Homo sapiens: one gene and its partners. The protein of the gene in region 3 purifies or fractionates together with the protein of the main gene of each other region. This does not show direct contact. Each region holds a gene or a part of one and is shown on either strand. Other genes may lie near its edges. The genes, in order: CLCN7, RAB3B, CGAS, SULF1, FAM111A, RAI14 and NMNAT1.

Region 1 (3,500 bases), on a different chromosome or scaffold from region 3:
CACAGGGGACCGGGAGTGGGCTGGCAGGGGGCAGAGGCCGGGTCTCAGGGTCAGGGGGACAGAAGGACGCCCACCTCATACTTGAGGGACAGGAGCTTCTCGTTGTGTGGGATCTCCTTGGGGAAGGGATGTGGAGGGTCCATATCCTGTGGCAGAAAAAGGCAAAGAGAGAAGCACAGTTGACAAGGCCACAAGGAGAGAGGCCCCTCTCAGCTCACACACGAGGCCATTATCATCCCGACACCAAGGACAAGGACACAGCAAGAGAACTGCACATGGGGCGCGGTGGCTGACACCTACAATCCCAGCACTTTGGGAGGCCGAGGCAAGTGGACCAGCTGCGGTCAGGAGTTCGAGACCAGCCTGGACAACAAGATGAAACCCTGTCGCTACTAAAAATACAAAAATTAGCTGGGCGTGGTGGTGGGCGCCTGTAATCCCAGCTACTCAGGAGGCTGAGGCAGGAGAATCGCTTGAACCCGGGATGCAGAGGTTGCAGTGAGCCGAGATTGCGCCGTTGCACTCCAGCCTGGGTGACAGAGCAAGACTCCGTCTCAAAGAAAAAAAAAAAAAAGAGAACTACAGACCAACACCCCTACAACCACGGATGCAAAGATCTTTGGTAAGACACAAGCAAAGTGATTCCAGCAATGCCAGGAGCAAGGTGAATTCAGCCTAGGAATACAAGTTAGTTTAACATCCAAAAATCAATCCATGAGGCCGGGTGCGGTGGCTCACACCTGTAATCCCAGCACTCTGGGAGGCAGAGGCAAGAGGATCAACTGAAGCCAGGAGTTCAAGACCAGCCTGGGCAACAGAGTAAAACCCTCATCTGTCTTTTTTTTTTTTTTTTTTTTTTTTTTTTTGAGATACAGTCACTCTTTTTGCCCAGGCTAGAGTGCAGTGACGCGATCTCAACTCACTGCAACCTCCGCCTTCCAGGTTAAAGCCATTCTCCTGCCTCAGCCTCCCAAGTAGCTGGGATTACAGGTGTGCACCACCACGCCTGGCTAATTTTTGTATCTTTAGTAGAGACGGGGTTTCACCATGTTGGCCAGGCTGGTCTCAAACTCTTGGCCTCAAGTGATCCACCCAGCCTGGGCAACACAGTGAGACCCCAACTCTTAAAAAAAAGCCAAAAAAAAAAAAAAAAAAAAAACCAGGCATGGTACTGGCATGAAGATGGCCACAAAAGAATGGAAGAGAATTGAGAGAGTCCAGAAAGAAATCCAAAACATGTACGATCAATTGATTTCCCACAACAGTGTCAAAACATTTCAACAGAGAAAGGTAGTGTTTTCAACAAATGGTGCTGGTACAACTGGATTTCCACATGCAAAAATGAAGCTGGGCCGGGCGCAATGGCTGACAGCTATAATCCCAGCACTCTGGGAGGCAGAGGCAGAAGGACTGCTTGAGGCCAGGAGTTTGTGATCAGCCTGGGCAACATAGTAAGACTCCATCTCTACAAAATATTAGCTGAGTATGGTGACATGCGCCTGAGTCCCAGCTACTTGGGAGACAGACAGGAGGCAGAGGCTGCAGTGAACCATGATTGCACCACTGCACTCCAGCCTGGGTGACAGTGAGACCCTGTCTCAAAAAAAGAGAGAGAGAGAGGGAGGGTATGACGTTGGACCCTTACCTCACACCACATCCAAAAATTAACTCAAAAGGGATGAAAGACCTAAAACTGTAAAATTCTTAGGAAAAAACGGGTCAGTCGTCATACTCTTGGGTGAGGCAATGGTTTCTTAGATTTGACACCAAAAGTACAAGCAACACAAGAAAAAACAGATTAGCTGAACCTCAGCAATACAACCTGTGCGGGGTGTGATGCACCTGTGGTCCCAGCTCCTCAGGAAGAAGCTGAAACGGGAGGATTGCTTGAGCCTGAGAGATGGAGTTCAGCCTGGGCCACACAGTGAGACCTCATCTCAAAGAATAGTAATAATTAATTTTTTTAGACAGGGTCCCGTCTGTCACGCAGGCTGAAGTACAATGGTGTGATCATGGCTCACTGCAGCCTCAACCTCCTGGGTTCGATCAATCCACCTGCCTCAGCGTCCTGAGTAGCTGGGACCACAGGCGCACACCACCACACCTGGCTAATTTTCGTTTTTGTTTTTGTTTTTTGTAGAGACAGGGTCTCACTGTGTTGTCTAGGCTGATCTCCAAATCCTGGGCTGCAGCCTTGGTTTCCCAAAGTGTTGGGATTACAGGTGTGAACCACCACACCTGCCCAGAAAAAAAAAAAAAAATTTGAGGCAGGATCTCACTCTGTCACCCAGGCTGAAGTGCAGTGGCACCATCTCAGCTCACTGAAACCTCCACCTCCTGGGCTCAAGTGATCCTCCAACCTCAGCCTCCCAAGTAGCTGGGACTACTGGTGCCTATCACCAGGCCCAGCTAATATTTATATTTTTTGTAGAGACAGGGTTTCACCATGTTGATCAGGCTGATCTTGAACTCCTGAGCTCAATGAATCCATCTGCTTCCCAAAGTACTAGGATTACAGGCACGAATCACCTCCCTTGGCCAAAACTTTTTTAATTAAATAAATTTGAGCAACAAAAGACACCACTGAGAAAGTGAACAGAAAACCCACTGAACGGGAGAAAACTTCTATAAATCATGTATTGGATGAGAGATTTGCATCTATGTATAAAGAACTCCTGCAGCTCAATTATAAAGACAACAAACCCAGTTTAAAAATGAGCATAACCAACACGCGTGTGGCCGGCCAGGCACCCGCTCCAGGGTTGAGACAGGAGAGGACTGATTGCTGAATCTCACGTGCTGGCTTTTTCCCTTCTCTCCCAACTCCTGCCCCTCCCAAAGCTGACACCAGAGCAAAGGCTTTGAAGTCCAAAAAGGCAGTGCCGAAGGCGCCCACGGCCACGAAACAGATCTTCCGAAGGCCTTGTGGCTCCAGAGGCAGCACAAACGTATCAGAAGGGCAGCCCCGGAAGAGGCGCTGCTGGCTGTACAGGACGGCATCTGAGCACGGCGCCGGCCTCGGGAGCGACTGCGGCAGAGCTCAAACGGACGCAAGGCCGAAGAGCACCCGGACAGGTGGACTGTGAGATGCCTCAGCCTCTGACGTGGCCCAGGGCAGAGCCAGGTGGGGCCTGATGGGGAGAAGGAGGACGCCCGGGGTGTTGCCAACATCAGGATCATCTCAACAGGAGTCCCGCACAGACATCTACCCAGAGACGATGAGTGAACGGCCAGCGGCAGCAGAGGACTCCCGGCCTCACCAGCGGCTGGGGGAAAAACCGAGGCCGGCGGGAGATGCCCCCGAGGGGAAGGAAGACGAGCACGCTGCCGCTGAGCTCAGGACTCCCAGGGCAGCCACTGGCACGGGAACATCTAAACCCCTGCCCTCTGAAGTCAGAGGCATCCGGCCCCCTCTCACTCTCCTGGGGCTCCTCACTGCCCCCCCAAGATCCCTGTCCTTGCCCTGTCCCAAAGCCAGGTCCAGCCCCCTCGCTGCCCAT
Region 2 (3,500 bases), on a different chromosome or scaffold from region 3:
TTACAGTGAGCGGAGATTGTGCCACTGCACTCCAGCCCAGGCAACAGTGGAGACTCTCTAATTAAAAAAAAAAAAAAAAAAAAAAAAAAAAAAAAAAGCATGAACGAGACTTTGAAAACTCTAAAAAAACATCATTTCAGTTGACTACATTATATTCCATCCTATAGATGTGTCATAAGACCAATTCTTTTTTTTTTTTTTTTTTTTTGAGACAGAGTCTTGCTCTGTCACCCTGGCTGGAGTGCAATGGCACAATCTTGGCTCACTGCAACCTCCAACTCCTGGGTTCAAGCGATTCTCCTGCCTCAGCCTCCCAAGTAGCTGGGACTACAGGTGCTCACCATCACACCGGCTAATTTTTGTATTTTTAATAGAGATGGGGTTTCACCATGTTGGCCCAGCCAGATCAATTATTTAATGTTGTCACTCTCTTTAGGAAGTTGTTTTTAAGTTGTTTTTCTACTCTTAATTATTATACATGAAACTGCAGTGAACATTTCTTTACATAAATTTTTGTACATTTTCCTAATTACTTCCTTGAGAGAGATTCCTTGAAGTGGAATTGCTGGTCAAAGAGTCACTACTAAAACATAAATGTGATCTTTACCACAATTTCATATCCTTTATCTTCTTTTATCTCTAAATAAACCTGGGAAATAAAGCTGGAAAGACGTGGATTATTATTTCCATTTGATCAAGAAGGAAACTGAAAATGAGAAATTAAAAGGATTTGCCCAAATCTCATAGCTAACAGCCGAGACTAGACTTAGTACCCTGCAGTGTTATGAAAAAGTTTAAAATCAATGCTCTACCCTCAGATGAATTCTTAGGTAAGTCATATTGCCTCTCTAAGCCACAGCACTTTTACCTTAAAATAGAGAAAATACCACCTACTTCACAGAGCTTGGTACAAATAGAAAGAGTAGTACTATACGTAAACAATCTGACACAGTTTCTCGGCCCATGGAGGTACTGAATACATATTATTTCACTGGCCCCTTTAATTCACTTCTGCAGGCAAATCTTGTTCAACTGCCCTCTCCCTGATTGTGGCTCCATTATTTGGGCCTGTTTTACAATTAACTGTTTGCTCTCTCTTCTGGATTCAAGGGGGCTTTATCCATCCTTACATCTGGTCAACGCTAGACCTACAGTAAATCCTTAGAGGGTGTTATGTCTTTCAAGAAACACATATAGAGCATTTTTCAAGTGCCAGACTATCAGTGTAAATGTCAGATTACTGGTTTTCACTTTTCTGATGTAGCCCAGCTTCACACTCTTAAACTGCTAGAATTAGAGGGGACTTTGGAGTAGCAGCTTTTTATTGTAACAAAAAGCCTGGCTACTGGGCCCAGCTTTCCCAGTAACTCAGTGTGTAAACTTGGCCTAGTTACTTAAATTCTATGCCTCAGTGTCCTCATCTGACAATAATACTTACTTCACGAGGTGCTGTGAATTTTAAATAAGAGAACGTATATAAGTATGTTTCATACACTGTGCTGAGAAAAATACATGTAGCCTCGTGTAGAATCAGTGAGAAATTTGCCTGCCTTTATTAGCTGTGACTGCCACAGATAGGAGACTAGGAAGTGATGGCAAGAGTAAAAAATTGTTTCAGTTCCTGATCTACCTCCGTTTATCTTACAGGTAAAAAAAAAAAAAAAAAATTGAGGCTCTGCAAAGACAAGTGATTTGTCCAAGCTCACACAGCAAGTCAGTTGGAGGGTCATGAATGGAACTTCTGTTACCTAATGGCTTCCAGGTTTGACGGGATTAAGGAAAACGAAAACCACAACAATTTTAGGGTGAATAAAGAAGCATCCTGGCTGGGCATGGTGGCTCATGCCTGTAATCCCAACACTTTGGGATGCCAAAATGGGAAAATCACTTGAGGCCAGGAGTTCAAAACCAGCCTGGGAAACATAGTGAGATTCCATTTCTACGAATTTTTTTTTTTTTTTTTTTTTTGAGGCAGAGTCTCACTCTGTCGCCCAGGCTGGAGGGCAGTGGCGCGATCTCAGCTCACTGCAAGCTCCGCCTCCCGGGTTCACGCCATTCTCCTGCCTCAGCCTCCCGAGTAGCTGGGACTACAGACACCCGCCACCATACCCGGCTAATTTTTTGTATTTTTACTAGAGATGGGGTTTCACCGTGTTAGCCAGGATGGTCTCGGTCTCCTGACCTTGTGATCCGCCTGCCTCGGCCTCCCAAAGTGCTGGGATTACAGGCGTGAGCCACCGCGCCCAGCCAAAAAAAGTTTAAATTAGTCGGATGTGGTGGTGTGCACCTGTAGTCCTCGGTACTTGGGAGGCTGAGGCTGGAAAATCACTTGAGTCCAGAGGTTCGAGGTTAGAGTGAGCTATGATTGCACCACTGTATCCCAACCTGGGTGACAGAGTGAGACCCTATCTCTAAAAATAAAAATTAAAAAAAAGAAGCATACCCAACATCCTGAGTGTCCTGCTACCGTACTGTACTTGCCATACCACACTGTTAACATCTGCTTATGCACACACAGCATGGCTTTCCCAGTAGGTGGTGTGAGAACGGGGAGAGGCAGAGAGCTGAGTTCAGTTGGAAGGCTCATTCAGATGGAAGCCCCCAAGGGGATCTTCTTAGGAGGGGGCGGCCAGGGGCTACTCAGACATTTGGAAGACAGGCAAAAAGCATCCCAGCAGGCAGCTGCCTGAGGCAGATCTAAGCAGACAGGTCATGCACAGTGGTGCATGCAGAATTGCATTTGTAAGATAAGCATCAATCAAATCTTTCCTCTATTTTGTGACAGTCACATAAAATGATAGAGCTATCTCCGTGACAAGCAATACAGATGAAGGCCCAGGGACCATCTGGGAAGTCGTCCCTGTCCCAGGCTGGGGGAAAGAAATGACTCCTCAAAGGGTGGCTGTGAAAAACAACCCTTTCAGTCTGATAGGCGGCAGAAATAAGCACCTAAGGAAGAAGCCAACTTCAGCCAGGAAAGAGCGGGGAGGAGGAGGAGAGAGCCCTAAAATCCAGCGAGAAGAGATCAGCTCAATAAATGGAGTGAAGAAGTGAATGAAGGAACTTACCTTTTGTTGCAAAGAACATGAGACTGAGTCCAAGAGACCTGGCATTTGAAAGATAAGCCCTGGCTCTTTCAGTGATCCTGTAAACTTAGGCAAATCACACCCCTGGCCTCAGTTTCCTTATCTATAAAAGGAGCTCATAAAATGGCTTCCTGGCAAAACTGTTGCAAGAATTAAAACCTGTATATGGGAGGGTGTTTTATTAACCCCTTATTTTGTTTGTTTGTTTGTCTCTGTGCTTCATGGTTTCTTCTAGCAAGTCATCCTGTGTAGTGGAAATAGTTTGGAGCTCCAAATCAAACAAACTAGATTCAGTTTCCAGGTCTATCATTTATTACCTATGAGACCTTGGCAAGAAATGTTACATGATTAAGACAGTTTCCTCATTCATAAAACAAGTGTTGTTGGGAAAATTATAGGTAATGTGGGTTATAC
Region 3 (2,543 bases):
ACCTAAGATCAAGAGTTTGAGTCCAGCCTGACTAATATGGTGAAACCCCGTCTCTACTAAAAATACAAAATTAGCTGGGCGTGGTGGCGCACGCCTGTAATCCCAGCTACTCTGCAGGCTGAGGCACGAGAATCGCTTGAAGCCAGGAGGCGGAGGTTGCAGTGAGCCAAGATCGCGTCATTGCACTCCAGCCTGGGCAACAAGAACGAAACTCTGTCACACACAGAAAACAAAAACAAAAACAAAAAAGCCGGGCGCGGTGGCTCATGCCTGTAATCCCAGCACTTTGGGAGGCCTAGGCAGGCGGATCACGAGGTCAAGAGTTCGAGATCAGCCTGGCCAGTATGCTGAAACCCCATCTCTACTAAAAATACAAAAATTAGCCAGGTGTGGTGGCGTGCACCTATAATCCCAGCTACTCGGGAGGCTGAGGCAGGAGAATCACTTGAACCCAGGAGGCAGAGGTTGCAGTGAGCCAAGATCATGCCACTGCACTCCAGCCTGGGCAACAAGTGAGACTCCATCTCAAAATAAAATAAAATAAAATAAAATAAAATAATAAAATAAAATGAAATAAATGAAATGAAATGAAATGATAAAATAAAATAAAATAAAATAAATACAACAGTCACACTAAAATCTGATTATGTTTTCAAATATATGGTTTGAAGTTTCAAAAACACATTTTTTCCCTCTCTTTCCCATTCTTAGCTTAAATATATTCTATGAATTTCTTCAACTGTATAAAGCTAACAGATATTTATACTATTTTTTTTTTTTTTGAGACAGGGTCTCACTCTGTCACCCAGGCTGGGATGCAGTGATACAATCTCGGCTCACTGCAACCTCTGACCCTCCCCTCACCCCCCTCAAGCGATCCAAAATCTTGTTTTGTTATAAAATTATTTTACTTTATTGAACTGCAAATTTAATATAAATTTTTTCTTTTCTAAAATCCACTGATTGTATCACAGAATTATTTACATTATTAAGAGTACCATAGATAATCTGCCATCTCATCTAGTTATTTAGTAGTTGACAAAATGTACTATTTATGAAACTATTTAGCCTTATCAACAATATTTCTTTTTTTTTTTCTTTTTCCTTTTTTTTTGAGATGGAGTCTCGCTCTGTTGCCCAGGCTGGAGTGCAGTGGTGTGATCTCAGCTCACCGCAACCTCTGCCTACTGGGTTCAAGCGATTCTCCTGCCTCAACCTCCTAAGTAGCTGGGATTACAGGTGCATGCCACCTCGCCCGGCTAATTTTTGCATTTTTGTAGAGACGGGGTTTCATAACGTTGGCCAGGCTGGTCTCGAACTCCTGACCTCAGGTGATCTACCTGCCTCGGCCTCCCAAAGTGCTGGGATTACAGGCGTGAGCCACTGTGCCTGGCCAACAATATAGTTTTCTTAATGCTTACTTCAAAGCCTGCATATGAGATCTTAAAGAACCTCTGTGCCTGCATGTTGGGCATTTTTGTTTTGACTTTTTAACTTTTGTGATCTTTATACTGGCCAACTTACTTTATTTATTTATTTATTTATTTATTTATTTATTTATTTAAGATGGAGTCTTGCTCTGTTGCCCAGGCTGGAGTGCAGTGGCATGATCTCAGCTTATTGCAACCTCTGTCTCCCGGGTTCAGGTGATTCTCTTGCCTCAGCCTCCTGAGTAGCGGGGATTACAGGCACGTGCCACTGCGCCCAGCTAATTTTTGTATTTTTAGTAGAGACGGGGTTTCGCCACGTAGGCCAGGCTGGTCTCGAATTCCTGACCTCAGGTGATCCACCTGCCCTGGCCTCCCAAAGTGCTGGGATTGCAGGCCTTGAGCCACCATGCCTGGCCAATACTGGCCAACTTTAGAAACTCAAATGAACAATTCCTTTTCAATCTTAGTTCTTTATGGTGTGTATGCCATCACAAAAAAAAATGGTGGGGTGCAGTGTCTCATCCCCGTACTTCCAAGACTTTGGGAGGCCAAGGCGGGAAGTTTACTTGAACCCAGGAGTTGGTGACCAGCCTGCCTGGGCAACAAAGGGAGACCACCATCTCTACCAATAAAAAAAATTTTTTTTGAGACAGGGTGTCACTATGTCACCCAGGTTGCAGTGCAGTGGCACGATCATGGCTCACTGCAGCCTTGATTTTCTGGGCTCGAGCCATTCTCCTACCTCAGCCTTCCAAGTAGCTGGGACCACAGGCACCAGTCACCATGCCTGGCTAATTTTTAAATTTTTTATGGAGGTGGGGTCTCACCATGTTGCTAGGCTGGGATTACAGGTGTGAGCCAACAGGCCCTCTACAAAATTTTTTTTTAAATTAGCCGAGCATGGTGGCATGCACCTGTAATCTCAGCTACTTGGGGGGCTGAGGTAGGATGATTGCTTGAGCCCAGGAGATCGAGGCTGTGGTGAGCCGTAATTGTGCCACTGCACTCCAGTCTGGGTGACAGAGTGAAAGTCTGTCTCAAAAAAAAAAATTACTCACTTAGTGTTGTTTTCAGTTTGGCCAATCAATCCCTAGCCGTCAACACAACCCAACT
Region 4 (3,500 bases), on a different chromosome or scaffold from region 3:
TTTTCCTTGTGTGCCTTTCCTAGTTTTAAATAGATAAATGTATGCCATTGTAATTATTTCCATTGTCACTTCTGGGTTTCCCCTTTTGGTTCATTAATACCCATTGCCTTGTTTTTCTCTGTACATAAATTAGGAGAGAGAAAATATTTGTATAATTTTTTTAACAAAAGGAACTTTGAGCATGTAAAATGAAACATGTATGCCCAAATTTTGAAATTAATGCTTTTGGGAAGAACGAATCTTTTCCTGACCTCTCATCTTCATCCTACCCAGTTTGTCATTTTCATAAAGGACCCATCAAATGTTGAACTCCTGTAGACAGAGCTTTAACATCTATTTCTTGCTGTTTAAAGAATGTGGAGTCATGTGACAGGGTAAAAAAAAAAAGGGGGCAGGACTCAGGGACCGTAATTCAGATCACTTCTCATGTACGAAGCTTTTCCCTTTTTGTCGAAGCAAATTTCTACGTAAGAAGGAAGAATCCAGCAAGAATATCCAACAGTCAAATCACTTGCCCAAATATGAACGGGTCAAAGAACTATGCCAGCAGGCCAGGTACCAGACAGCCTGTGAACAACCGGGGCAGGTGAGTGACGCAGGCTTTCTTTACCACCACTCATGTGCTTCTCCATCTCTAATTTAGAAAATTGTCCACATATAAAAGAATGTACATTTGTGTATAAATAAGCTTTTCCTAGTGGCCTTGAGGGCAAGCTCACTGAGACACCTCTCCGCGGACAGAATTACGTAACTGGTTCAGGCTGGGCCTCCCCATTACTACTTGGGCTCCCTCCAGTTAAAAAAGATGATGATCTCAGAGAAAGTTCTATGCCAAAAGACACTGGTTTCCTCTGAGGAGAAGATTCCTGTTATAGTCCCTGTTAACTAGTCACTGAAGAGTTGCCAAAAGGCTACTTAGTCAAAGCACAGGTACGTGCTGAGCCTCTTGGCAGTGAACCACCCCAAGAGACATGATAGGGCCTTCACCCTAGGCTAAAGTCAGAATGTCATCTTACCCCCAGTAGAGGACAGAGCCTGTGACCAAGCTTGAGGAATGAGAAGAGAAACCATATTCTGTTTGTTTATTGTTCCTACTTCTGCTCACAAAGATTCTGGCATCAAATATTTCATTAGAATAGATCCTCTTCGTTAGTAGAAATATTACTATAGACCCCAGAGCTACCCAGAATACCAGTTATTATCAGTAAGAATAAAAGAAATACTGTGTGATGAATTAACATTGCTTTTAAAGAAAGTGAGTACGTATGAATTTAAACCAGTTTAAAACCATTGATTTTAAATGCCCTTGATTGAAATGTATGCTAGCTAAAAGAAAATGCTGTGTCATGACAAGAGGAACTGAACTTTGGCCCAAATCATTGCAGCTGAGAACAAAATCAGAGGAAAGTGAAAAATACTAACACATAGTGAGCATTTGTCTTACATCAGGCACAGTACGCAGGATTTTGTAGCATTTACTCAATTTAATCCTCACAACTGTAGAGTGAGGTGGGCATTGGCATCTCCATTTTACAAATGGGCAGCTGGGATTCAAACAGGAGTTGTCTGATTCAATAACTCAGGCCACTTGCTGCCTTCCAAGGTAAGTTACAATAACCAGGTGAAGAGAAGTTCAAATCTGTGAGTCTTTTTTAACTTAACTGACCTCTAGATATCCACACAATTCACCAACACCAGTTCAAGATGTCAGGCTCATGGAATGAGTAGGTAACAAAGTTATTATTAAAATGGCCTCACTCATTATACGCTTATTATATGGTATCTAGCTTGTTGAATAGACATTCCTAATAAACAACTTGATCCTTATACCCTGCATTTCCTCATGCTTTCTTGTACACAGGATCCCTTTGAAATAGAAGAGGATAGGGAGGGAGAGCTGTTGAAGGAAGGGCTAAAACTAAGCCTTCACTACATTCTAGTACATCTTAATTTTCAAGTGTTTAGTGGAGAAAAGCTGAGACCTATTCATTATATTTTAATTTGAAGTCTTCAAATCTTTCTTATGAAACCTCCAAATATTATTATGAATAAAACCTCAGAATTGTTTTGTAGCTCTAAGATGATTTTTATGAGCTAGCCTCAATAGACTAATTTACTTTTATTCAGGAGTTGCAAATGTTCAGTGTTAAATATATCTCATGCAAATTGGTGATCTTGTTACTCTTTTAGCTCTAAGAGGTGAACATTATAGCCTTTTGGGAATAAGGTACACTGCCTACATTTCAGTGTGTAATTTTACAAACCTCTCCATATGGCTTGCCCTAAAATTTTAATATATGTCCTAAAGGGCAAATGTAGCATAAACCAGATTATGGTACTTTGGCACAAGCTTTTCACTCACGAGCTGAATGCTAACTAAGTTACAAACTTAATTTTGCTTTTTCATATTTTTTGAACTTGTTTTGGCCCCATGAAATGCTTTCATATCTGGAATTTTCTTCCACTGTTTCATTTCGCTGTGAATCAGTCTGAATTTAGATCCATTATGTGGATATATGAGAACGTCAGCAATGGTCTCTTTTAGAAAGGCCTGAATTCGTGGAACAAAGAATTAGGCTATGCCCTGATGGTGATTTCTTTCTATAGAATTTCTTTATATTGGGCCTGAGTGAGCTTTAGAAGTGAAGACCTGGAGAGTATTTCAGATTGTCTCTAGCTTCAGTGTATCCACAGCACTAGTGAATTGTTACTCTAATCCCGAACCAGCAGGATCAGCATCCCTGAGAGTTTGTCAGAAATGCAAATTCTCTGGCTATTGCAGACCTTCTGAATCAGAACCCCTAGGGGTGAAGCCCAGCAATCTGTGTGTTAACAAGTCCTCCAGGTGACTCTGATGCTCCCTAAAGTTTGAGAAGCACTATTCTAACCCACGATTGTGTTTACTGGTGGCCCTCAAACCATAGCTTAGGAATCTAAGAACTTCAAGAAAATTTTGAGCCTTAATCTTTAAAGCAGTTATTGAATCTGTGGGTCAAACCTGATAGCTGTGTTGTGTGTTGTTGTTTTGTTTTCTTTGGGACAGGGTTTTACTCTGTCACCCAGGCTGGAGTGCAGTGGCGTGATCATGGCCCACTGCAGCCTCGCCCTCCTGGGCTCAGGTTATCCTCCTACCTCAGCCTCCTGAGTAGCTAGGACTACAGGCACACACCACCATGCTCGACTAATTTTTGTGCTTTTTTAGAGATGGGGTTTTGCCATGTTGCCCAGGCTGATCTGGAACTCCAGGACTCAAGTGATCCACCCACCTTGACCTCCCAAAGTGCTGGGATTACAGGAGCGAGCCTCCATGCCCAGGCAGCTCTGTTGTGTTCTATCGACTTTTTATATCTTGGCCTTTTGCTCTTTCTTTCTGGCTACTTTGAAGATTATCTGTTTTTGGCGACAGTATCCCTGACTTTAAAAAAGGAAGAAGAAAATTCAGAATAATGACACTGAATTGTTCAGGTTCGAGGTGGCAGCGGAGGCTAGAACTGACCTGC
Region 5 (4,013 bases), on a different chromosome or scaffold from region 3:
TGTTAAGCCTATTGTCCTTTAATCACTATTTGCTTACACATTAAAATGTAAAACAGGCAAAAGAGAAAGAAGGAAGAAAGGAGGGAGGGAGGGAAGGAGAAAAGTGAGAAAGAAAGAAAGATAAAAGAAAAAAGAAAGAAGAAAGAAAGAAAGAGAAGAAATAAAGAGAAAAAAGAAAGGAAGAAAGGAAGGAAGGAATGAAGAAGAAAAGAAAAAAGAGAAAGAAAGAAGGAAAGAAAAAGAAAAAAAGAAAGAGAAAGAAAGAAAGAAAGAGAAAGAAAGAAAGAGAGAGAGAGAGAGAAAGAGAGAGAAAAGAAAATTTTCTCCAGATTAGAATTATTGGCTGCTATTGTTTGGATGCTGGGTACTAGCTGTGATTACCCTTTGTGAATGTAGGAATGCACAGATTCCAAAAGTGAGTCTCATAGAAAAAGTCAGCATTCAAATATGTTTTAAGGTTACTCTATCCAAACCCCAAAGAACCCACAGAAGATGAAGCAGTAATTTTAGCTTCTCTTGGTGTATTGTACATGCATTTAAGGCCAGTTCCTTCCTTCAAATTCCCATGTGTTTTGTAGTTACCAACACACCTTTCAACCCTATCTGTTTATATACATCATATAGTCCTCTGTCAATTGCATAAAAGTTGTCCCCTTTGTGACTGTAATCGCCTTTTCCAATACACATCTACTCAGAATGCAGGTCCTTAAACAGCAGGCTGCCTTGAAAACCCTCTCCAATCTTCTTCGATCATCAGCTTTGAGATGCATATTCCTAGAGCCCATATCATCTTCTTCATCACTATCATAAACGTCTCCACATATTGATGAACGTTTGGAGAATCGATTTATGACAAGGGAGTTTACTCTTCCTGCATCCGCGGCTTCTTCGTGATTTTGTCCTAGTCACCGGGCCTATCCCACCTGCTGGGGATGCCGCCCCCTCGGAAGTGCCTGAAATCTCCCCACTTACCCAACTAGCCTCAGCGCCTCCTGTGTGCTGCAGCAGATGGCGCGCTGCAGACCCCAGCCTGGTGCCTCCGCGACTCCTCCCCAACCATGATTTACAGGCGGGGACAGCCACATTCCTGCGCCCCAACTTCCACCTCCGCTTCCTGCGCGCGCGAGACTCAAGCTGCCACAGTGGCTCTGCCGCCAGCGTCCCAGCTCCTCCCACACCCGAGTTTTTATTTCCTGCTCCCTCTCCAGCCCGGCCCAGGCCAGCCTACCGGCGACTAGGATGCTTTCGCTTTCGCTCTCGCTTTCCAATACTCGGGACTGGGGAAACCGGGAGAATAGAAGCAGGCAAGGACCGCCGTGGGCACGGGGTCAGTGAGACAGGGTCCTGCTCGCGGCGTCAAGGAGGAGCGCTGTGGGTGGGTAGGGTAGGCGCGCCCCCTCGGCCTTGCCTTTCCAACCACTCTTTTTTGCACGCCAACAGGTGTCCCCAGCGCAGCCAATCGGCTTCCGAAGTAGGTGAGTTGCTGCCTGAAGAGAAAAGACAAACTCCAGTATCTTTCATTCCATTGGCCAGACGCGCCATTCCCCAAGTGAGTTCTGTTCTCCAACCAAAGTGCTGGATTCCAAGGGACTGGAAGGGAAAGTCCCTAAAAATCACGAGTTCAGGCGTCTGAGACTTGGTGGGAACGGACCTTCCTCTTAGGTGAGTTACTCTTTGGTTCTGGGGCTGACCTGGAGTTTTGCCAGGATTCATTGGCCGCAGCAGGATGCTGGTGGGGACAGGGTAAATAAAATCTGCACTCCTGCGGGCTTTTATTGTTGAAAGGGGCACTGACGCTCTCCCTGGAAACTTAAAAAGAACAGCCAAGTGAACGGATGTGTCTTTCTTTTGCAGTGCCCAAGCCTGTTCTAATTTTTAAAAACTGATGTCTATTAAGACCCAATGTTAACTTTATGAAAATGGTTCCTAAGGAGATTCACATCTCTGTGTCCGAATTCTGTGTGCAGCAAACATCATCTCAAGTGCGTTTTCCCAACTACGCTTCTTTCCAGGATAAAATACTCTAAGTGACAAATGTTGAGTACATTATCAGGTATGTTCACTATTGTGAGAACTGAAGCCATCTACACTCACATAGCTTGCCAACTACATTAACCTGACTTCTTATTCCATTATTTTCATCAACATACATTTACTATTTCAAGAAACTTTTGCCAGGGACCGGAAAGTTGCAAATATCTTTATTGCTTAATCCAGTATCTTCTTCAAAGATCCAACCACTCTTCAATGGAAAACATCAAAGAACAGTTTACATTCTAAGACTTTGAACCTTTACCTCAAAATCCTAGCCTTGTTTTATCTACCAATCCTAAACTTTTACCCGTAGCTGACTCAATTCTAACCAATTCCCCTCATTAAATATTAGACTTACAATGGGACTTCAAAATCTCAATACATATAGCCCAAACTTGCTCTTCCCTCTCTGAGACACCACTTAAATTCTGTCAAGTTATTGTTCTCCATTACCTAAGTGAGCAAGAAACTTAGCTTTGTCTTATCAACAGGTTGCTTTGATATTACTGGGAGCCAACATTTGACATTCTTGGAGGCTCCAGCAAGACCTAATCAACCTCCCAACCCTCAACTCAGAATCAGTGTGTGCCCTGAAGTCCCTTCAACCTTCTTGAGGCTCTCCCTGATCTCAAAGGTGGAGAAAGTAGATCTTGCATCAGGTTGAACTCCAGTTTCTTTTTGCTCAGTTTTTCAAGCGCTGAGTTTATTTTGTCCCTAGGCATAAAGAAATCTTTCTAGGAACCCCTTTGGTTATGGGACCAGATTTTTAAAAGCTTTTTAGGCTTGGTGAAAAATCTGCCTTATCACTAGCAACACTACGACTTGTCTCTGTTCTTGTTTTTTGTTGTACTCGTGTAAAAGAAAAGTTCAAGGGAAGAGAACAGGCTCAAGTCTACTTCTCACGCTGGCTCTGGGGATTAGGAAATTCAGAAAGTTTTGTTTCAGACTGGCAGTGCTGTCTGATATAAACACAGCGTCAAGTACTGCACGCTGTAGCTACCTGAGGTTTAGGCCGGAAGAGGCACGGCTGATTTAAAAGTGAAAGAAAGTAACCAATTGGTTCGCAGACAACCTTTTCCCAAAAGGCGGGCGATTCAAACCCCTAGCCCCACCTGCTCCGTTTCCCGCCCAGCTGGAGCTCTGGAGCCTTTGCTTCCTCAAATACGAGCGGGAACTGCGTTGAGCGCTGGATTCCAGGCCGAGTGCTGGCGAGGCGCGCAGTGAGTGAGCACACAGGGCGCTGGGGTGCTCCGCGGGGCGCGGTCACGGGCGCGGCCGCGGCGGGCTCGAGTCCCGGCTGGGAGGAGAAGGAGCTGGGTGTCAGGAAGCCGGGGACTGACAGCGCCACCCATCTGGGGAGCCGGGAGGACACAGGTTTTATTTTGGTAGTGCTGCAAGTCCCCTTGTGTGCTGGGGGGAGCGGGGCGGCGTGGTAGGATTGGAAGAGGCTTAGAGTTGGCCTCGACCCCTGCCCTTGCCCCTGGAAAGGCAGAAAGTGGGGGTTGGGGTGCGGAGAAGCAGGAAGAGAGGGAGAGTGAAGGAGGGGAGGAAAGGGAGAGAGGAAGAGGGAGAGTGAAGGAGGGGAGGAAAGGGAGAGAGGCAGAGAGGGGGAAGGAGAGAGGGAAGGAAGGAGAGATTGAGAGACAGAGAAATTCCTAAGGGGAGCTGTCAGGTGGGCTGGACATGGGCCCCAGGCTGCACTGCTTTATCCCTTTGCTGTAGGAAGTCAAGCAAGTTCTTTAGGTAAGTAGAACCTTGATGTCAAGTATAAAACAGGGGTTGGTATAGGATAGCTAAGAGCACTTTATATTTTGATATAATCTGATTTATCCTGGATACTGAAAACAATGTAGGGAGACGGAGGATATTGGAGTGTTTTCTTAACCTCTTGCCCCTTTCCACTGTGATTGCTCAAGTACATGCAAAATTAATGTTTCTTTCTGCCCATTTTATTTTCCTTTTTTTGTCTGTGTCTATTA
Region 6 (3,500 bases), on a different chromosome or scaffold from region 3:
ACCTACTGTGAGACTAGGAGTACTGTCGGGGGGCCGGGACATCTGTGAGCCTAGGAGTACTGTCAGGGGTTGCCTGGGACACCTACTGTGAGCCTAGGAGTATTGTCAAGTGGGGCGCAGGACATCTCCTGTGAGACTACAAGAATTGTCAGGTGGGGCCTGGGACATCTCCATTCCTTCCTGTTAACAGCAAAACTGGGAAACTGCTGCCACCAAAAGCTGAAGACAGAACAGACCCAACTCCTTGGGGTGAGAAACTTAAGACTCATCCTTAGAATTCATCAGGTCTCTGTGAAATAGTCATATTACAAAACCACCTTTTCATTGCATATAAATTGCATTTTATTACATCCAATAGAAATAGATCCTAAAAATGGTCAATAGTATGTTGACTGGTTGACATAGCAACCGATGACTAGTTTTCAAATTGAGAGTATAAAACCCACAATTATTACTTTTCACTCATGTATGATAGGTTTTCGAACTGTGGGTGGCAGTGGGGTGGGGAATAGCGGCACATGATAGAAAAATAGAGCCCTTGTAATTGTATTCTCAAACTTTGAGAGGTGGTCATTGTGGGTTCTTAACCTGGGTATTCCAAGGAGGTTTATAAATGGCCTTAGGGCAAGGAGTTCCATGAAACTCATGAGACTGATAAAAATTATGAATTTATAGCATCATTGTACATACATCAGTTTCTCCAAGGAAGAATGGTCCAAAACCCCCATCAGATTTGCAAGTGTCCATCTATGCCTCACGAATATTTAAGAATCACTGCTGGATGGTTTTCTCTGGTTTGCAAATGGATTCCTCTTAGAGAAAAAAAAAAAAAAAGAAAAAAAAATGGAAAACACTTTACTCTGTGCTGCCCTAGTGCAAAAGGAGGCTTCTCTGGCCTTTTATTCTCCATCAGTTAACACTGCCTGTTTTCTGAGTGTCTATCACTTCAGCCAGCAAAAGGAACTGGACAGACTTAGTGAAAGTGAAAAGAGGTAGATGCTGCTTGTTAGTTTTAGAGTTATTATCTCTTTGAAAAGAACAGCTAAATTAAGCAAACTGATTGCAAAAACGTGGAACCAACCCAAATACCCATCAATCAATGAGTGGATAAAGAAACTGTGGTGTGTGTATATATATACATATATATATGTGTGTATATATATATATACACACACATATATATGTGTATATATATACACATACATATATACACATATATATACACATATATATACACATATATATACACATATATATACACATATATATACACATATATATACACATATATATACATATATATATACACATATATATATATATACACATATATATATATATATGATGGATACTACTTAGCCATAAAAAGGAGTGAACTAATAGCATTCACAGTGACCTGGATGAGATTGGAGATTATTATTCTAAGTGAAGTAACTCAGGAATGGAAAGCCAAACATCGTACATTCCTACCCATAAGTAGGAGCTAAGCTATGAGGATGCAAAGGCATAAGAATGACAAAATGGACTTTGGGGACTCAGGAGGAAAGGGTGGGAAGGGAGTGAGGGATAAAAGACTACAAATAGGATGCAGCGTATACTGCTCAGGTGATGGGTACACCAAAATCTCACAAATCACCACTAAAGAACTTACTCATGTAACCAAACACCCAGTTCCCCAATAACCCATGGAAATAAAAAATTTAATAAATAAATTAATTAAGCAAATTGAACTTATCTAGATCATAAGAAAACAGAATATCTTATCGATAACAATACCTAAAATGGATATGAAAAATTAAGTTGAGCTTTAAAAGGTAATATAATAAATAAGTGTAAGGGAAACTGGTTCCTTGATAATAAGCTTTGGTGTTCACTAAATGTCAATTTTTTTCTTTCCTTTTTTTTTTTTTTTTGAGACAGTGTCTCGCTGTCACCCAGGCTGGAGTGCAGTGGTGTGATCTTGGCTCACTGCAATATAAATATACTTTTTTTTTTTAAAGTAGATATGGGGTTTTGTGCCATGTTGCCCAGACTGGTCTTGAACTCCTGAGCTCAAGTGGTCTGCCCTCCTCAGCCTCTCAAAGGGCTTGGATTACAGGCAGCAGCCACTGTGCCTGGCCTAAATGTCAATTTAAGAAAATAAATAAATAAATAAGGAAAGAAAAAAAAAGAGCCCATGTATTTCCTTCCACTGTACAGTAAGCTTCTTGGACTACAACCACCTTTTCTCACAACTAGATTCTGCTTATTTAGAAGCAGGGATTAGCAAATCATGAAGAACTTCCCAAAGGTGTCCCCTTGCCCCGGTGTGACATATGGTCATGGAATTATACGGCAAGACTAATTTCCAGTGAATGCCATTCACTACAGAAGGGACTGGCCTAGATCGCAAGTAAGGTTAGATGAGGTGACACTGATCACAAAAACCCAGCTGGTGAATCAATCAAGACACAATGCACAAACTTCCGCAAAGAGTGGATAAGGAGGAAAAGTGTTTCTTTCACATCTTCTGAACTTCGACTTCGCACTTTGTTGCTGATTTCTGCCTTTTGATTATTGTTTAATTCTCCTCTAGACTAGGACAACTCTATATCTGATGACCGCCATGAGGGGCTTAATGACCTCTGAGGCAGGAGTAGTTGAGAGATGTTAATCTCCTACTGTGTGGCAGATACTCTACTGGACACATAGAATATAAAATTGAAGAACAAGGCATGCTTCCTTCAGTTAAACAGAAGAAGGTACTGCTTTGTTTTTAAACACATGGTTAAGTCAGTAAAGTTACTTTTTATTTGTATTTATTTATTTTTTTAGACAGGGTCTCACTCTGTTGCCCATGCTGGAGTGTAGTGGTAAGATTTTGGCTCACTGCAACCCTCGATCTCATGGGTTGAGGTGATCCTCCCACCTCAGCCTCCTGAGTAGCTGGGACTACAGGAATGCACCACCATGCCCAACTAATTTTTGTATTTTTTTAGAGACAAAGTTTCGCCATGTTTCCCAAGCTGGTCTCTTAACTCCTGGGCTTAAGTGATCTTCCTGCCTCAGCTTCTCAAAGTGCTAGAATTACAGGTGTGAACCACCATGCCTGGCCAAAAGTTACTTTTTAAAATACTGATTAGATTTGCTGATATCTCTCAGTGGGCCTGATGTCAAAGACGAGGCTAATTTTTTTGTTCATTGTAGATGGCTGGAGCTAGAAAATTGACATTTGATGAACAATTTTTATCTTTTGTTGAACCACCTGTACTTTTCAGCTCATGACTAACTACAAAGGGAAGAAATATCTTTAAACTGGGCATGGTGGCTCACACCTGTAATCCCAGCACTTTGGGAGGCCAAGGCAGGTGGATCACTTGAGGTCAGGAGTTCGAGACCAGCCTGGCCAGCCATGGCCAACATGAAACCCCATCTCTACTAAAAATACAAAAATCAGCCGGGCATGGTGGCATGTACCTGCAGTCCCAGCTACTCAGGAGGCTGAGGCAGGAGAATTGATT
Region 7 (4,289 bases), on a different chromosome or scaffold from region 3:
TCAGAATGCATTTCTCTTATGCATTAGAAATGTTTTCATTATCCATTAACTCTAAACAAGAACCTAAAGGCATATAAAAAAACCCTTAGCATAGAACTGCTGAATGACTAAGTCACAGAGAAGAAAAGGCAAATACCTCCACTGCTTCGAAGACTGCACACGCTAAAACTACACAAATGCCAGAACAGAACATTGGATTATCATTATCAAAATTAGGGGAAGGCTGGGTGGGGTGGCTCATGCCTGTAATTCCGGCACTTTGCGGGGCCAAGGTGGGAGGATTACTTGAGCCCAGGAGTTTGAAACCAGCCTGGGCAACATGACAAAACCTCATCTCTACAAAAAATACAAAAACTAGCCGGATGTGGTGGCATGCACCTGAAGTCCCAGCTACTAGGGAGGCTGAGGTGCAAGGATCACTTGAGCCTGAGAGATTAAGGCTGCAGTGAGCCGTGCTCGTGTCACTGTACTCCAGTCTGGGTGACAGGGCAAACAAAAACAAAAATTAAAAAATCAGGGAAAGTACACTGTGAACAAATGTTTATTCAGCAAATTTTTCAAATTATTATTATTATTTTTTTGAGACCGAGTCTCACCCTGTAGCCCAGGCTGAAGAGCACGATCTCGGCTCACTGCAACCTCCGCCTGCCGGGTTCAAGCAATTCTCCTGCCTCAGCCTCCCGAGTAGCTGGAACTACAGGCATACGCCACCATGCACAGCTAATTTTTTGTATTTTTAGTAGAGACAGGGTTTCACCATAGGGGCCAGGCTGGTCTCAAACTCCTGACCTCGTGATCCGCCCACCTCGGCTTCCCAAAGTCCTGGGATTACAGGTGTGAGCCACTACACCCAGCTCAAATAATTTTTTTAAAGTATATTTTCCAGTTTTGTTTTGTATGGCACTGACTCTGTCACTGTGAATTCCATTTTACCCAAAACATTGACACTTCCACACATATTTATGAATCAAAATTGAAAGATAATTGCATTAATAGGTACTTTTATTTTTTTCTTCTTTTGTTTTGTTTTGTTTTGTTTTTTTAAGACGGAGTTGCTCTGTCACCCAGGCTGCAGTGCAGCGTCGTGATCTTGGCTCACTGCAGCATTCACCTCCTGAGTTCAAGCGATTCTCATGCCTCAGCCTCCTGAGTAGCTAAGATTACAGGCATGGACCACCACGCCTGGTTAATTTTTGTATTTTTAGTAGAGATGGGGTTTCACCATGTTGGCCGGGCTGGTTTTGAATTCCTGACCTTAAGTGATCTGCCCGCCTTGGCCTCCCAAAGTGCTGGGATTACAGGCATGAGCCACTGCACCCGGCCGACTTTTGCAAAGGAAATTCTTTGAATCTGAAGTGTCTTGCAAGGTAGAGGCTATTGCAACCATTTCAACTAGTGTGTCAACAGTCTTCTCTAAGGTGGGCTAGAAAAATGGTTTCATATTCAAATTGTAACTCTGAAAAACAACTGATGGTAATAAAGAGATTCCATAATCAGACAGAACTAAGTGAAACAATTAGTTTTGGTAGAGTTCTGTGGTAATCATAGTTAGAAGTTTATCCTGGGTAGCTGAAATATAACTAACTTCAGACTCCAGGCCTGTCGGTGGCTTGTGCCAATCACCACAACACTTTGAGGGGCCAAGGCCAGAGGATCGCTTGAGCCCAGGAGTTCAAGGCTGCAGTGAGCTATGATCACACCACTGCACTCCAGCCTGGGCAACACAGCTCTTGTTTTTTAACAAGACATTGTTACTTAAAAAAAAACTGCCCTGATGAAACAATTCTACCATGAACACTGATGTTGTTCTGTGGACTACTTCAGGAAGATGGACTAAGAACATCATTAAATAGTTCCAACCAGTTTCTGGGTAATTTTATTTTTAATTTTTTGTTATGAGGGTCTTGCTATGTTGCCCAGCCTGGGCTCAAATGATCCTCCCACCGCGGGCTCTCAAAGTGCTGGGTTTACAGGTGTCACACCGCGACAGCCAAGGGTAACTTTTTTTTATTTTTATTTTTGAGATGGAGTCTCGAACTGTCGCCCCGGCTGGAGTGCAATGGCGCGATCTCGGCTCACTGTAACCTCCGCCTCCAGGATTCAAGCGATTCTCCTGCCTCAGCCTCCCGAGTAGCTGAGATTACAGGCGCCCACCACCACGCCCAGCTAATTTTTTGTATTTTTAGTAGAGACGGGGTTTCACTATGTTGGCCAGGCTGGTCTCGAACTCCTGACCTCGTGATCCGCCTGCCTCGGCCTCCCAAAGTGCTGGGATTACAGGCGTGAGCCACCGCGCCCGTCCAAGGGTAACTTTTTAAGAGCTGCCCTACAGCTCATTACCTCCTTCTCAAGGAGCATGAGTGTCAAACCACCTCCAGCAAAGTAGATGTAGTCTTTTACAGATTTGGAAAGAAGGATTTAGGAGGAAAGGGAAGTCGTTCGGAATGAAGGATTTCCTCCTCTGACGCCCAGCCGTCCCCCGTTAAGCCTAAAGGTGCCAGACCTCAAGACTCTTCTAGAAAGAGATTTTTCCTTTCCAAGGTGAATCCATCTGTTCCGAAGGTCAGAAGCTATTTTACCGAAGTTTTCCGTTCCACTGAAAAAATTAAGGGTCAATCAAAGCTCCTTGCCCCAAACCTGAATATGAGCTTGCCTCGGGTCATATTCGACTCTAAAGACTCCACCACACCATCCTGGACTCCCCTATATCTAGGACAAAAAGCGACCAGTTTCTCAGGGGCTCCTTGCGGGGAGCTTACCGCGCCCTCACTGTCCGCCGGCCCGAGTGCTACCGGAGATCACCAGCGGCCCGGACGCCAGCGAGTGGAACATCTCGGTCGCACTCTCATTGGTTCCAGGGGGCCGGAAGTGCGTGCGTCCAGCGGAAGTGCTCCCCCGGCGCGGTCCGCCAGGCCAGTGCCCTCAGGTAGGCGGGGCCCCTGGCCCTAAACTCTGGGACTGGCGGGCGGTCAGGCGGCACAGGGGGAATCCCGGGGGCCTAAGGAGGTTGTCCCAGTTTTTGTCAGGTAGGCCCGGAAGGAGTTTCGGGGACCATGGGTTTACGGCTACCTCTGGTGGCAATTGGGGCCTGTTGGAGCCCGGCCGCCGCGGGACCTACGTGCCGGACTTCAAGTTCCCGCGTGGGGTGGGATTTGCTGCGGTGGCCGGAGCTGATTCTTCACCCAGTCCTGTTGGTTCTGGGCCAAACCCTCCTCACTTTCAAGGAAGAGGCGTGCTCTCCGCCCTTACCTTTTCCAAGCCTCTGGGTTTGACGCCATCCCTCAAGGCGTGTCCGGATGCGGGATTTTCCTCAAAGACCCTCTCGGCCTCGCTAGGAAGAAACTCAGAAAGGCTGCGGTAGGCGCAGTCGAGGGGGAAAGTGCCCCCGCCCTTGATGTCTCAGGCTGCTCAAGTGGAAGTTATCTGGACTGCCTTAGGGCAAGTTTATATATAGCAAATAAAATTACTTGTTAATGGTTTCCTTTTTTCCAGCATCTCCACCCCGAGGTGGTTTGAACTTTGAGCCTTTTGTAGTCCTGATGAATAATTTCATTTTCCTCAAGTTTATGACACTCGGAACGTCAAGAACTGGAGGTTTGTGCAATTTGAGACCGGTCGGCACTGTGCAGAGATCAGAGTACTAAGAGACAGGTGAGCATGAATGAGGACCCTCCGCTCCAGATATAGTGTCTGAGAGCGGTTTCTGTAGTTTCGTAAAAGTGAAAAGTGCACCACATTTAGTGACTACTAGGTGGTGCCAACGAGTTAATCTTTCGGGGATAAATCTCAACTAATGTAGTACCAGGTTAAGGCTTTTAAAATGCACCCATTTTTACTGAAATGTATTCAGAATAGCTTTAGCTCCTTAAAATATGTTGAGCCTTTATATACGTGACCAAATTATCGACGTTCTATTCTGTATTAGGTACTGAGAAAGCTGAGAGAGGAATCAGACTCATATTCTGTTCTCCAGAGTTTAGTCAGAGGAGATAACGTATTATAATAAAATCATATATAATTAAAGGCAGAAATAAGTGCTAAATAGAGAATAAGATTTGAGCTGGGCGCGGTGACTCACGCCTGTAATCCCATCACTTTGGGAGACTGAGGCAAGTGGATCACCAGAGGTCAGGAGTTCAAGACTCGCCTGGACAACATGGTGAAACCCCATCTCTACTAAAAATACAAAAATTAGCCAGATGTGGTGACGCATGCCTGTAGTCCCAGCTACTGGAGAGGCTGAGGCAGGAGAATTGCTTGAACCCAGGAGGCTGAGGTTGCAGTGAGCC

The links.
Region 1: the proteins of CGAS (region 3) and CLCN7 purify together in Homo sapiens (affinity purification with mass spectrometry, with the first as the bait; one large-scale study listed by BioGRID). This does not show direct contact.
Region 2: the proteins of CGAS (region 3) and RAB3B purify together in Homo sapiens (affinity purification with mass spectrometry, with the first as the bait; one large-scale study listed by BioGRID). This does not show direct contact.
Region 4: the proteins of CGAS (region 3) and SULF1 purify together in Homo sapiens (affinity purification with mass spectrometry, with the first as the bait; one large-scale study listed by BioGRID). This does not show direct contact.
Region 5: the proteins of CGAS (region 3) and FAM111A purify together in Homo sapiens (affinity purification with mass spectrometry, with the first as the bait; one large-scale study listed by BioGRID). This does not show direct contact.
Region 6: the proteins of CGAS (region 3) and RAI14 purify together in Homo sapiens (affinity purification with mass spectrometry, with the first as the bait; one large-scale study listed by BioGRID). This does not show direct contact.
Region 7: the proteins of CGAS (region 3) and NMNAT1 purify together in Homo sapiens (affinity purification with mass spectrometry, with the first as the bait; one large-scale study listed by BioGRID). This does not show direct contact.

What each region holds. Positions count from the first base shown.
Region 1 is NC_000016.10:1,461,529-1,465,028, forward strand, and holds part of CLCN7 (H(+)/Cl(-) exchange transporter 7), read right to left. Parts: intron 147-3,500; coding exon 75-146; intron 1-74. UniProt on the Homo sapiens protein: Slowly voltage-gated channel mediating the exchange of chloride ions against protons. Functions as antiporter and contributes to the acidification of the lysosome lumen and may be involved in maintaining lysosomal pH.
Region 2 is NC_000001.11:51,984,201-51,987,700, forward strand, and holds part of RAB3B (ras-related protein Rab-3B), read right to left. Parts: intron 1-3,500. UniProt on the Homo sapiens protein: The small GTPases Rab are key regulators of intracellular membrane trafficking, from the formation of transport vesicles to their fusion with membranes.
Region 3 is NC_000006.12:73,425,755-73,428,297, forward strand, and holds part of CGAS (cyclic GMP-AMP synthase), read right to left. Parts: intron 1-2,543. UniProt on the Homo sapiens protein: Nucleotidyltransferase that catalyzes the formation of cyclic GMP-AMP (2',3'-cGAMP) from ATP and GTP and plays a key role in innate immunity.
Region 4 is NC_000008.11:69,604,347-69,607,846, forward strand, and holds part of SULF1 (extracellular sulfatase Sulf-1 isoform 1 precursor), read left to right. Parts: intron 1-456; coding exon 457-586; intron 587-3,500. UniProt on the Homo sapiens protein: Exhibits arylsulfatase activity and highly specific endoglucosamine-6-sulfatase activity. It can remove sulfate from the C-6 position of glucosamine within specific subregions of intact heparin.
Region 5 is NC_000011.10:59,141,643-59,145,655, forward strand, and holds the start of FAM111A (serine protease FAM111A), read left to right. Parts: upstream 1-1,213; 5' UTR 1,214-1,304; exon of another isoform or gene 1,305-1,327; intron 1,328-1,440; 5' UTR 1,441-1,662; exon of another isoform or gene 1,663-1,854; 5' UTR 1,855-2,053; exon of another isoform or gene 2,054-4,013. UniProt on the Homo sapiens protein: Single-stranded DNA-binding serine protease that mediates the proteolytic cleavage of covalent DNA-protein cross-links (DPCs) during DNA synthesis, thereby playing a key role in maintaining genomic integrity.
Region 6 is NC_000005.10:34,662,828-34,666,327, reverse strand, and holds part of RAI14 (ankycorbin), read right to left. Parts: intron 1-3,500. UniProt on the Homo sapiens protein: Plays a role in actin regulation at the ectoplasmic specialization, a type of cell junction specific to testis. Important for establishment of sperm polarity and normal spermatid adhesion.
Region 7 is NC_000001.11:9,941,986-9,946,274, reverse strand, and holds the start of NMNAT1 (nicotinamide/nicotinic acid mononucleotide adenylyltransferase 1), read right to left. Parts: upstream 2,801-4,289; 5' UTR 2,760-2,800; exon of another isoform or gene 2,504-2,759; intron 263-2,503; exon of another isoform or gene 1-262. Other genes in the region: protein LZIC, read left to right, coding at 3,540-3,594.